Linked DNA regions of Homo sapiens. The protein of the gene in region 4 purifies or fractionates together with the protein of the main gene of each other region. This does not show direct contact. Each region holds a gene or a part of one and is shown on either strand. Other genes may lie near its edges.

What was found.
Region 1: the proteins of WDFY1 (region 4) and SIRT5 purify together in Homo sapiens (affinity purification with mass spectrometry; 2 studies listed by BioGRID and IntAct, with this or other methods). This does not show direct contact.
Region 2: the proteins of WDFY1 (region 4) and TPD52L2 fractionate together in Homo sapiens (co-fractionation; one large-scale study listed by BioGRID). This does not show direct contact.
Region 3: the proteins of WDFY1 (region 4) and FAHD2A fractionate together in Homo sapiens (co-fractionation; one large-scale study listed by BioGRID). This does not show direct contact.

Annotation. Positions count from the first base shown.
Region 1 is NC_000006.12:13,595,101-13,598,600, reverse strand, and holds part of SIRT5 (NAD-dependent protein deacylase sirtuin-5, mitochondrial), read right to left. Parts: intron 3,125-3,500; coding exon 3,037-3,124; intron 1,639-3,036; coding exon 1,585-1,638; intron 874-1,584; exon of another isoform or gene 737-873; intron 1-736. UniProt on the Homo sapiens protein: NAD-dependent lysine demalonylase, desuccinylase and deglutarylase that specifically removes malonyl, succinyl and glutaryl groups on target proteins.
Region 2 is NC_000020.11:63,863,829-63,868,069, reverse strand, and holds the start of TPD52L2 (tumor protein D54), read right to left. Parts: upstream 2,801-4,241; 5' UTR 2,705-2,800; coding exon 2,686-2,704; intron 1-2,685.
Region 3 is NC_000002.12:95,412,708-95,414,911, forward strand, and holds part of FAHD2A (oxaloacetate tautomerase FAHD2A, mitochondrial), read left to right. Parts: coding exon 1-57; intron 58-187; coding exon 188-250; 3' UTR 251-1,258; coding exon of another isoform or gene 1,259-1,338; 3' UTR 1,339-1,476; coding exon of another isoform or gene 1,477-1,525; 3' UTR 1,526-1,574; coding exon of another isoform or gene 1,575-1,632; 3' UTR 1,633-2,204. UniProt on the Homo sapiens protein: Tautomerase that converts enol-oxaloacetate, a strong inhibitor of succinate dehydrogenase, to the physiological keto form of oxaloacetate. It is thereby required to maximize aerobic respiration efficiency by preventing succinate dehydrogenase inhibition.
Region 4 is NC_000002.12:223,874,848-223,877,091, forward strand, and holds the end of WDFY1 (WD repeat and FYVE domain-containing protein 1), read right to left. Parts: 3' UTR 501-2,244; downstream 1-500. UniProt on the Homo sapiens protein: Positively regulates TLR3- and TLR4-mediated signaling pathways by bridging the interaction between TLR3 or TLR4 and TICAM1.

The sequences.
Region 1 (3,500 bases), on a different chromosome or scaffold from region 4:
TCCTCGGCCTCCCAAAGTGCTGGGATTACAGGCATGAGCCACCGCGCCCTGCAGAACTGTCCTTATTTTTTATCTTGTCTGTATGTACTTGATGTGCTGACACATTGTTTCAGCTAAGCTTTCCCAGTTCATTCATTATGCTCACATTTGTGCTCACAGCCACCCAGACCTGGGAGACATACTGGACTCAGATTTGCCTCCCACCCCAAGCATCCCCTAATTTCATCAATGACCTCCTTTCATGTTCTCTCAGGTTCATGTCTCTCTGGCCCAGTATGTAGCCAGCTTTCCTGTGTCCATTACTAAAAATCTCTCTTCTTTCACTCCCTCCTACCTCAGGGTTACCTTCTATACACCTCCTAAAACCATCCCCCAAACACCATTTTCATCATAGTAATCTCCTGCATCACAGGAATCCTCCAGGTCTACCTATTCCTTCAGAAGAAAACTTTTAATATTTAGCAATTAAAACCCTCATGAGGAAAATTTAAAAGGTTCTGTGGTTAAATAAGCCAGTAAAGCATTAACATACGTATTACAACCACTTTTTAGAAGGCAGCAATGTGGATTAAATGCTCTAAAAAGTCCTGCAGTAAAGCAAACATATTTTAACTTTGTTTAGTCTAACATTTCCATATTTATTTGAGTGCCTAACATGTTTTTTTCAAGTAATGTCTCAACGTAACATTAAATTAATGTTCTATGAAACACTTTTAGAAGTGCTGTTTTATTTTACCTTAAAAACACTCTAATCCAGCCGGGTGCAGTGGTTCACGCCTGTAATCCCAGCATGTTGGGAGGCTGAGGCGGGTGGATCATCTGAGGTCAAGAGCTCGAGACCAGCCTGGCCAACATGGCGAAACCTCATCCCTGCTAAAAACACAAAAAATAGCCAGGCGTGGTGGCGGGCGCCTATAATCCCAGCTACTCGGGAGGCTGAGGCAGAAGAATCACTTCAACCCAGGAGGTGGAGGTTGCAGTGAGCCAAGATCGTACCATTGCACTCCAGCCTGGGTGACAGAGTGAGATTCCATCTCAAAAAAAAATAAAATAAAATAAACACAACAAAAAAACTTCTAATCCAATTACAGGTTATAGAAGTGCTGTTTTAATGCCTGGTTTTGAAAAATTGGCATAAAAATCTTCCTTTTTTTTTTTTTTTTTTTTAATCTATGAACATTCTGTTTGGTCCTGTAACCTCTCCTATTCAGGTCCTTTCATTGCCTCCCTAACCCTGGATTAATAATGCCAGTGATGTTATTTGACCAGTTACAGGTCAGCCCCTATGCTTTCTGTACACTGGGTAACCACCTGTCGCACGACAGCTTCAGAAACTTTCCCGACCTCAAATGATCCTACCACAACACAAAGCAAAAAGAGGTTGGAAAAAAATCATTCTTTTCATCCTAATTTGGTTCATCCTTTGTCCTTTCACTTTTGGTCTCAGAGATCAAGCCTGGTTTTTACATTTGTGCATTTGATTTAAGAGGCGTCTTGCCAAATACATGTTTAGGTTTTGATGTCTGTTTTTTTTTTTGTTTTGGTAACCTGGAACACCAGTACAAATCAGAGTTTTCTACCTACCGGGGAAGTTTCTCAACTGGGATGCTGGCATCTTGAGTTCCAGGTTCTGGAGCACTGAAGTAAATAATATTAGAAAAGAAAGATTGTTATTGGCATAATAAAAAATAAAGAAACAACATAACTCAGTTTGTATATTTGCCTGGCAGTATGTGGTATAAAACTCCTAATTAATACATGCTCACTTGGAAGGGCATTAGAAGGAAGGACCCCAAGCCATTAATTACCAGTGGTGCTGGGCACAGTGGCTCATGCCTGTAATCCCAGCATTTGGTGAGGCCAAAGTGGGAGGACTGCTTGAGGCCAGAAGTTCAAGACAACCCTCGGCAATACAGTAAGACTGCATTTCTACCAGAAATACAAAAATTAGCTGAGTGTGGTGATGTGTGCCTATAGTCCTAGCTACTTGGGAGGCTGAGGCAGGAGGATTGCTCGAGCCCAGGAGTTGGAGGCTGCAGTAAGGTGTGATTGTGCCACTGTACTCCAGCCTGGGAAACAGAGCAAGAACCTGTCTCAGAAAAAAAAAAATCACCAGTGGTTGTACTGCCAGTGAGGGAATGCATGTGTGGGGAGGGCTGGAGTGGCTGGGTGTGCCAAGGGGGAACTTCATGTTTACCTTTATACATCATCATCATCATCATTTGTATCCTCTGCAATGACATTATATAGTCCTTATACAATTTATACTGTTTTTAAAAGGCTGAGTGGAATTTTTCTCAATATTGTGTCTACCCTCAAATTTTTTCCTCATTGTAATAATAGTACATGTTCATAATAGAAATATAGGAAAATTCAGAAAGATATAAAGAAGAAATTAAAAATTACCCATAATCCCTCCACTCCTGATATTCCTTATTAACATTTTGTTGTATTTTCTTCTGGTCTTTTAACTATATACAGATACACGAACTCATTGTGTGTACAAATTTAGGACCCTGTGGTTTTCACTTAACACTGTAAGTTGTGAGCAAAATATTTCTTTTATCACATGGCTATATTTAGTTTTTTTGTTTGTTTGTTTGTTTTTTGAGACAGGGTCTCCCTCTGTCACCCAGGCTGTAGTGCAGTGGCATGATCTCAGCTCACTGCAGCCTTGACTTCCCAGGCTCAAATAACCCTCCCACCTCAGCCTCCCTAGTAGCTGGGACTACAGGCATGTGCCACCACACCCAGCTAATTTTTGTGGTTTTTTGTTTTGTTTTGTTTTTTTGTAGGACAGGTTTCTCACTGTGTTGCCCAGGCTGGTCTTGAACTCCTGAACTCAAGCAGTCTCCCCACCTTGTAACCCCAAAGTGCTGGGATTACAGGCATGAGCCACTGCACCCAGCCTTGTATTTAGTCTTATTTCTCATAAATATCCATGGGAATCTTTGATGAATGTTCAATTTCCTCACATTTATGTTCAACCTAAAGGAGAAAACAACCTATACTTATTCTGTAGTGTGGTATAATTACCCTTTTCCTGATAAAGCTGGACAAATTGGACTCTTGTAATTCTCAGCCACAACTCCACAAGAGGTACATCGAGTTTTAAATAAGCTACCTGAAAAATACATATGAAGCAAATCCAGAATTTAGTATAATCAAGAGCAACCTTCTCCATGTCTAAAAGGGTATAAGATACTTTATTTTTCACACTTCATTTCATGTTTTGGTCTCACCCAGTTACCCAGGCTGGAGTGTAGCAGTACGATCATAGCTCACTGCAGCTTCCAACTCATGGGCTCAAGCGATCCTCCCACCTTTGCCTCCTGAGCAGCTGGGACTATAGGTGTGCACCGCCACACTGAGCCATACTTCATTTTAGCAAATGGGCCTACCCTAGCTTTAGCTTTCATGGGAAACAGAGGCATGCAGTACTCTTAAGCCAGTCAAGAGCATATGCCCTCAAGGACTTTATAATCTGGAGGAAAAATAAA
Region 2 (4,241 bases), on a different chromosome or scaffold from region 4:
GGTGGCACGCGCCTGTAGTTCCCAGCTACTTGGGAGGCTGAGGCAGGAGAATCACTTGAACCCGGGAGATTACAGGCGTTGAGCCACCACGCGCGGCCAAAAAAAAATTCTTTAAAAAAAAAAAGAAAAACTGGTCGGGCGGGGTGGCTCATGCCGGTAATCCCAGCACTTTGGGAGGCTGAGGCGGGCGGATCACCTGAGGTCAGGAGTTCAAGACCAGCCTGGCCAATATGGTGAAACCCCGTCTCTTTTTTTTGAGACTGTCTCAAAAAAAAAAAACAAAAGAAAAGAAAAAGAAAAAAAAACTATGCCTTTTAAAAGACAACACAAAGACACCAGATTAAATGCACTTAACAAAGATACTCTTCTTAAAAGCTGGCTGCATCTCACTCCCTTCAAATGTCCCATAGGACTGGAGCCGTGTGCACTTCCTTGGCGCTCCACAAACGCTTACTAAACGAAGCGTATCCACTTTTTTATCCACTGATTCTCTTTTTTTTTTTTTTAGACGAGTCTTACTCTGTCACCCAGGCTGGAGTGCAGTGGCACGATCTCCGCTCACTGCAACCTCCACCTCCTGGGTTCAATCGATTCTCCTGCCTCAGCCTCCCAAGTAGCTGGGACTACAGGAGCACACCACCATGCCCGGTTAATTTTTTTATTTTTAGTAGAGACGGGGTTTTGGCACGTTGGTTAGGCTGGTCTCAAACTCCTGACCTCAAGTGATCCACTGGCCTCGGCCTCCCAATGTGTTAGAATTACAGGCGTAAGCCACCGAGCCCAGCCTTTCTGTTCTATTTAAAAAAAGACAAATGAGGCTGGGCACAATGGCTCACACCTGTAATCCCAGCACTTTTGGAGGCCAAGGCGGGCAGATCACCTGAGGTCAGAAGTTCGAGACCAGCTTGACCAACATGGAGAAACCTCCATCTCTACTAAAAATACAAAATTAGCCGGGCATGGTGGCGCACGCCTGTAATGCCAGCTACACGGGAGGCTGAGGCAGGAGAATCGCTTGAACCCAGAAGGCAGAGGTTGCGGGAAGCCATGATCGCGCCATTGTACTGCAGCGTGGGCAACAAGAGCGAAAATCCGTCTCAAAAAAAAAAAAAAAAGTAGAAAGACCAATTAACCTGGCATGGTGCGCCTGTAGTCTTATAGTCCCAGCTACCTGGGAGGCTGACGCAGGAAGATCGCTTGAGCCCAGGAGTTGAAGATTGCAGTAAGCTATGATTGCACCACTGCACTCCAGCCTGGGAGACAGAGGGAGACGCTGTCCCCAAAAAAAAAATTAAAAAAAAAAAAAAAAAAGGCCAGGCGCGGTGGCTCACGCCTGTAATCCCAGCACTTTGGGAGGCCGAGGTAAGCAGATCACGAGGTCAGGGTATCAAGACCGTCATGGCTAACAGTGAAACCCCGTCTCTACTAAAGATACAAAAAATTAGCCGGGCATGATGGCGGGCGCCTGTAGTCCCAGCTAGTTGGGAGGCTGAAGCAGGAGAATGGCAGTGAACCCGGGAGGCGGAGCTTGCAGTGAGCCGAGATCTAGCCACTGCGCTCCAGCCTGGGCGACAGAGTGAGACTCCATCTCAAAAAAACAAAAACAAACAAACAAAAAACACCCTCCAGAATAATGCAGCACCTAGGAATTATAAAGCTTAATATGTAGCCGGGCACAGTGGCTCACGCCTGTAATCCCAGCACTTTGGGAGGCTGAGGCGGGCGGATCACAAGGTCAAGAGATCGAGACCATCCTGGGCAACATGGTGAAACCCTGCCTCTACTAAAAATACAAAAATTAGCTGGGCCTGGTGGCGCGTGCCTGTAGTCCCAGCTACTCAGGAGGCTGAGGCAGCAGAATCGCTTGAACCCGGGAGGTCGAGGTTGCAATGAGCTGAGATCGCGCCACTGCACTCCAGCCTGGCGTCAGAGCAAGACTCCGTCTCAAAAAAATAAAGAAAGAAAGAAAGAAAGAAAGAAATTTAGCATCCCTCTCTAGAGCCCCAAAATGCAAGGCAGACTTTTATCATCTTCTCAAGATTTTAATCTCCTGGGCTCGCTCCACGCCCCTCAGTGGCCATCTCATACTGCTCTGGGGAGACTGTTCTGGAAACAGGCCTGGTATGCTGGGTGTGCCCCTGACTCACTCCACCCCCTCTCCATGAGGCAACCCCTAAGCAGGCTGAGCTCCGAGCAGAGTTGCTGCCCAAGGGGAGCTCTGCTGAACGCGAAGACCCCTTCTCTGCTCGGGAGCCGCCCTCAACACCTCGGACTGGGTCCAGGGCCAGACAGCGTGAACCCGAGGGCCCCGCGCAGGGACCGGGGGGTGGCAGAGCAAGCAAGAGCAGGGCACGGGGTGGGCGGCATAAGCGAGACCTGCTGGGAGCGACAGAACCCAAACTACGGGAGCAACGGCGGGCGCCAGGGAACCACACCTCGGAACGGTCCCAGGGGAGACCAGGAGGGCGGCTGGAGAGAGCCCAGGAAGCGGTCTGGGCCGCGGGCAAAAAACACACCACGACCATCATAAGCTTCGAGGTCAGTGGCCCCGGGAGCTGAAGAGGGGCCGCGGGGTGGGTGAACCGAGACCGAGAGGACAGAGAGTCGCAGACGCGACCCCGGGAGACGGAGAACAACGGGCAGCCTGGGCCCATCTGCGGCGAAGGGGCCGGGCCCGGCAGGTACCTTGGCCGGCGGAGTCCATGTTCGGGCGGCGTCCGGACCGCTGTCGCGGGCGCTATGGGAGCCGAGCGGGCGGCGCCGGGAGAAGCTCGCCGCGTACACACTAGCCAGCGGAACTGCCTCAGCTCCGCGGCGTTTCGTAATCCGCGATGCGACGGCTACTTCCGCCCGGGCACGTGCTCCGCCTTCTTCCCGCCCCCACCAGTGATATCCAATGAGAGTGCCGCTTGGCCCGTCCTGGTTTACCCGACTCAACCTGATAGGCCGAAACTGCGGGCGAACCAGGAAAGGGAGGCGTGGTTCGGCGGGAATCCATTCCAGGTTGACTCCACCAGCGAGAATCACAGGTAGAACGGTCAGAGTAGCGGGAGGACTGGGAAGGTGGGAAGTGGGAGGACCGTCCAACATGGCGCTGTGGAAAGCCAGCGCAGGGCCCCAGGGGATCTTCCGGGGCGGATGCAGCTGCCTAGGAGTGCTGGGGCTCGCGCGCCTCGGCGGCTCAAACTCTGACCCCTTGAGATCCTTTCCAGCCCGACCCCTTACTTTAGGGGTCAGCCTGCCCCCGTAAGTCCTGTTATTTATTGTATTTATATTCTTTTTTTAGTTGGTCCTTTTTTGTTTGTTTTTGAGACGGAGTTTCACTCTTGTTGCCCAGGCTGGAGTGCCATGGCGCGATCTCAGCTCACTCCAATCTCTGCCCTCCGGGTTCAAGCGATTCTCCAGCCTCAGCCTCCCGAGTAGCTGGAATTACAGGCGCGCGCCAACACGTCCGGCTAATTTTCGTATTTGTAGTAGAGACGGGGGTTTCGCCACCTTGGCCAGGCTGGTCTAGAACTCCTGACCTTAGGTGATCCACCCGCCTCGGCCTCCTAAAGTGCTGGGATTACAGGCGTGAGCCACCGCCCCTCACGCCTGGCTAGTTTGTCCTTTTCATGGGGACTTTTTATTGTACGCGGGTTACTCTGAAAAAGATCGCGATTCGTCCCCTCGCCCTGCAGGCGCCGCTGCCGCCTCGCCTCGGGCGTGGACCCTGCGGCTCGGGCCTGCGCGTGTGCACCCCGAGGTTGTCTCACTTCCTGTTCAGGGCGACCAGCGCTGCGCCCTCCCCACTCCACAGATGAGGAAGCTGAGGTTAAAGTCACTTGCCCCAGGTCACTCCGCAAGTTGAAGCGCAACCAGGATACTCTGGAACAGGATGCCTGACTTCAGAGGAGAGGCGCGTAACCACCAGGCAACTGGCCCCACGAAAACAAGTCCCGCAACTTCCCTTCTTTGGCTCCTACTTGCTCCCGGAAGAAAAGCCTTAAACGGTATTCAAGCCCTTTAGGATCTGATGTCCTAGGACTCCACTCTGGGCTTCCAGCCTGGGGTGGTACTGGTCCCTAGGCATGGAAGCTCCTCCCACTGCCCCTTCCTTCACCCGGCCACCTCCTCCCACAGGTGTCTTCCTGGTACTCTTGCACAGGCCCGAGTCCCTTACCACCACGGCCTTAGCCTGCTCTCGTGCTCTCAGTAATGTTTTCTCCATTTGCTGCCTTTCATTCTTTCCAGAGATTCTT
Region 3 (2,204 bases), about 130 Mb from region 4:
CTAACTGGGACCCCCCCAGGTGTCGGTGTATTCAGGAAACCTCCTGTCTTTCTCAAGGTAGGTTAGCGAAAAGCAAAGAGCAAGGGCCCCAAAGGCCTGGCAGGCTTGCCTCAGACTTGAGAAGTACAGGCTTGTGTATGTGTGTCTGACGGAAGGGCTGACACTGTCATGGCCTGCTCTGTTGCAGAAGGGGGATGAAGTCCAGTGTGAGATTGAAGAACTAGGTGTCATCATCAACAAGGTGGTGTGATGGCTCCTGCACAGGCCCTGCACATAGGATGAGGGCATCTGCTCCCACTCAGCCTAGCCCAGGGAAAGGCCCAGTGACAGGTGTGGACAGGTGCCAGCCCTGCAAGCCGCCTCTTCTCGGTAGAAGGGAGAAGGACAGAGCTCTCTTCAATAAATTCGTCAGGTCAAAGCAGCAGCTTTGCTTCTGCTGTTTGTCTTCTTTTGGGCTTTGTTTCATGGGACAAGTTGGGGCATTTTGTGGGACTGGGGAAGAAGAGAGCAAATACACACACATATGCCAAAAAGATGCTGCTGGGCTGGGGAAAAGACAATTCGTGTCGTCCCCTTGTTTATCACATCAAAGAAGGGAAAAAGCAAGAGATGGCAAGGGACAATCAAGCCTCAATGATTATATTTATAGCTAAGGGTTTGCAGCCTCCTCTCCATCTTCTGGCTCTAGGACACAGCTGTGTTCTGGGGCTCAGAAGTCTCAGCACAGGCTCCTTCTCACAGTTCTAGCTACAAGTGAACTGCCGGATGAACTGTTCTAGTTTTTCCTGATTGTCCAGGCTGGCAAAAGTAGGGGACAGGTGGAGCCTGGGGCCTGCAGGGCTCGGCGTCTGCTGCAGAACCTGGGCCATGGAAGATGGGCCGTGAGTGCACTCACCACAGGGACTGTGTCCACATGGCCCAGGGGCCAGGCCTGTCCCCCAGAAACCTGCCTTGAGACCTCTGACCCCTTAGGCCTCAGTGTTTGAGTGCAAATGCTGCCTCAAAGCAGCCCCAATACCCCACCTAGAAGGATGAGCCAGTGATTTGGGAGACCAAGAGGCAGGAAACCATCCCACCTTCTCCAACCCATCACCACGTCTATTGCTGGAAGACACCAAGTAAATCCCAGGGTCTTAATGAGGCACCATCAGGCCAGCCCTGTGGGGTGATGGGAACATAGCTGGGTTTCCCTGAGCCACTCTATTGGGGTGGGAGCAGGGGGACAGAAGATGGTGACACTGGCTCCTCTCACCCCTAGGTCTCTGAAGGTCCAGATAGCACTGATGGCAAGCTTTGGGTCTGCACACTCTGGAAAGAAGAGAGAAGTGAAGGCTCTAGGTAGGGAGGACAGGGAGACACTGGGCACAGGCTTCTCTCCTCTTGTTTAAAGAAGCCCAGGGAGGGATAGATCTCCGACTGGACAGAAGACTACTCTGCAGCCCGCCTTCCTAGAGTTGGGTTGTCACTGTCCGGCAGGGGGCAGCAGCCACCAGCAAACACCACTGCCTGCAGGAGCCTGGGCTGACTGGTTGGGACTCACCAAAGATCCCTTCTTCCTGGGCGGTGGCCTGCAGGAACTGGAACAGCTGTTGGAGAGGAGAAGAAAAAGAAGACATCAAAAAGAAAATCTAGTGCTGGGTGGATATAGAGTATGAAGATGTGGAGCTGGGAAAACAGAGGATGTGGTGGGATGGGGAAGGAAAGGTTGTGGAAGGCCTGCACCCCGTCTCAGTTCCTCCACTGCTTCGTCCCAGATTCTGTTTTTGTTTTCCTGAATCAGACTTAGTCTCCCTCCATTCTCCCGTCCCCTGTGTGCCCCCATCCTGGTCCTGCCTCACTGGACAGCCTCTCCGCGGCCTTCCTCCTCCCTGCTCCAGAATTCTACTTGGTGCCCCCCAACCCCACTCGACTCATTGTCCACCTGGCCTCTGAGGCCAGGCACCCTCATTCCCCTCTCCCACCCACCCCACCCAAGGAAGCCCAGCACAGACCATCTCATCTCACTCCACCATCACTTCTTTGCCAAATGCATTTCCAAACACCCTCATGAGCTTTGCTGATCTCTTTGCCATCTCTCCCTGCCCCACTCCGATGGCTCCTCCTGCCTGGTGAAGACTGCCCTGGGTATCCCAGAACTGAACCTGCAGCAGCCAGCACAGCTGACCTTGGGGCGATAAGCAGCCAGGGAAAGGCTTTCTTAAAAA
Region 4 (2,244 bases):
CTATTCACTGCCTTTCTGGTTTCTAAATCAATCTCTGGTTTAGTTGAGGTATCAGTTCTTCTGGGTCTGAACCACACGTGTTCACTCACAAAACTGAGCTGCTGAGGAGAAGTAGAGCTTGATCTTGTTATCACTAGATAGCTCTGTGTAGTCAGAGCGCCTAAATATCCTGCACTATGCTGACTGCTACCTCAAGCGGCAGAGACAGTAATACCCACCACCCTTACAGACAGCACAAATGACATGCTAGCACATTCAGGCCAGAGGCAGGAAGAAGGCATGTGTTTTCAAGACAGAAAGGCAGACTTAATAACACACATTCTCTTGGTTTTCTCATCTGTAAAATGGGAGGAATGATGCCTTGCCCAAGTGTTGCCAGGATTGAGTAAGATAATGTAGTGAAAGCACCCAGCACACAGAGGGTGCTGAATAAATGGTTGCTACTGTTATTGCCCTACGTCCAGGCTGACTACAACAAAAGTGATATTAGGCAAACACAGTAACAAGCAAGGAATGTTTTATTGTGTACATTTTCTCAAAAAAAAAAACCCACAAAAACAGAACCCACAAATAGGAGCAAAGAACAGTTTTCTAGCATCTCTGGGATACACAGGGCACCATATCTTATAGAAACATAGCTAGTACAAGAACAAAGTGTACTAATTAACATTACCCCTTGCTTCCCCAGTCAAAAAAGGCTATAGAGAAAAACACTTTAAATTGTACTCTAATACAAATTTGTTGCACAATTAAACTTCAACTTACTCAAAGAGTTATTGTATTGTAAACTGCAGAAAATAGAATAGGCATTCAATAAATCTGCTCACAATTAACAATTAAGCAATAGACACTTGAATAAATATAGCATGTATTACTTATTTGTTAAGCCTTACACTTACGATGAGCAGATGGTTTATCACTATATAGTAACAGATTTTTTTTACACTTTAGGAGATACCATATCCAATAACGGAAGTAGAAGTACTTTAACGAAAACTGATTTTAGAAAAATATCTCCTTGGGTCTGAGCTACTATGGTATTTATTACATATTTGGGTCAGTTTCACCAGTTTAAAAATATAGGTACTAACAAACTGAATTCTTTCATGGGAGAACAAAGTAATACATTCTAGAGCAATAGTATTTCTTTATATCCTTTAGGTAGCAGGACAGAGCTAGGACATAGTAAAGAGATTTACGATGTAATGAATAATTTGTTTCTACCTAATGCTATAGGGGTATTGCTATCATTTGAACTAAGAAAGAACAATTTTAAAACTTGTTTATAATGAAGAATCGGCATTTCCTTACCACATATATACTAGATGTAAATATAAGGATCTTCTCTAATAGTCTGTATTCCTTAATCCCTATCTGTACAAATTAGCCTGCATATTCAGGAATGGAACAACCAGTAAACTGTTACTTGAAGAACTAATTTAAATGATCCATTTAAGAGAAATGCAGTCAAAATAAGGCAATAACCATCAGCCTATCTGTACTTTTCTTCTGTGCCTACTCAGTAAAATTGAGAAAATAATTTTTGCCCACTTCTATAAAAATATCACCCCATTTGCTACCTAGCATATGAGAGAGACAAGACTAGCCTGTCACGTTTGTCTCTAAAAAGAAAAATGATAGGCCTGGTGGAGAGCAAGCTATATGGAAACATCAGCCTTTCCTTTTCTAAGATACGTCACTCCAATTCTTCCTTAAATATAAACTTCCTCCTTGATTTATATTAACCCCTTAGGAGGCACTATAATAACTTTATGTTCCCATGGAACATAGGGTTTTTCAAGAATTTCTTAAAATAAAAAAGGTTTGAAAGCTATGGAGTAAACTCAGCAGCTGTGATATTCCGTTCAATCTACCACAGATGTCAAACGGTCACATTTTACAGAAGTCAAAGGAAAACAAAACCACAGTTCTGCACTCTTCCACAGGGCAAGGAATTGATCATATTCTATTTTCCTTTCAGGAATTCATAAAATCCCTAGGATAGCACCTTTGTATGGGCTGAACCATTAACTGAACTAAAATTAATACAGGAAGCTTAACATTCAACATTGTGCTTGAACAAAACTTACCACTACTCAATTTTTCTTCCAAACTATGTTAGTAATATACATTTTGCAAAGAGTCTAGAAAGTTTTTAAAAGAAATCTCTTTAGGTGATGTAACACGAAAACTCTAAGGAACAACAAAACCCTTCAGTCTTATTTCTGAAGACAAGTCTATGTT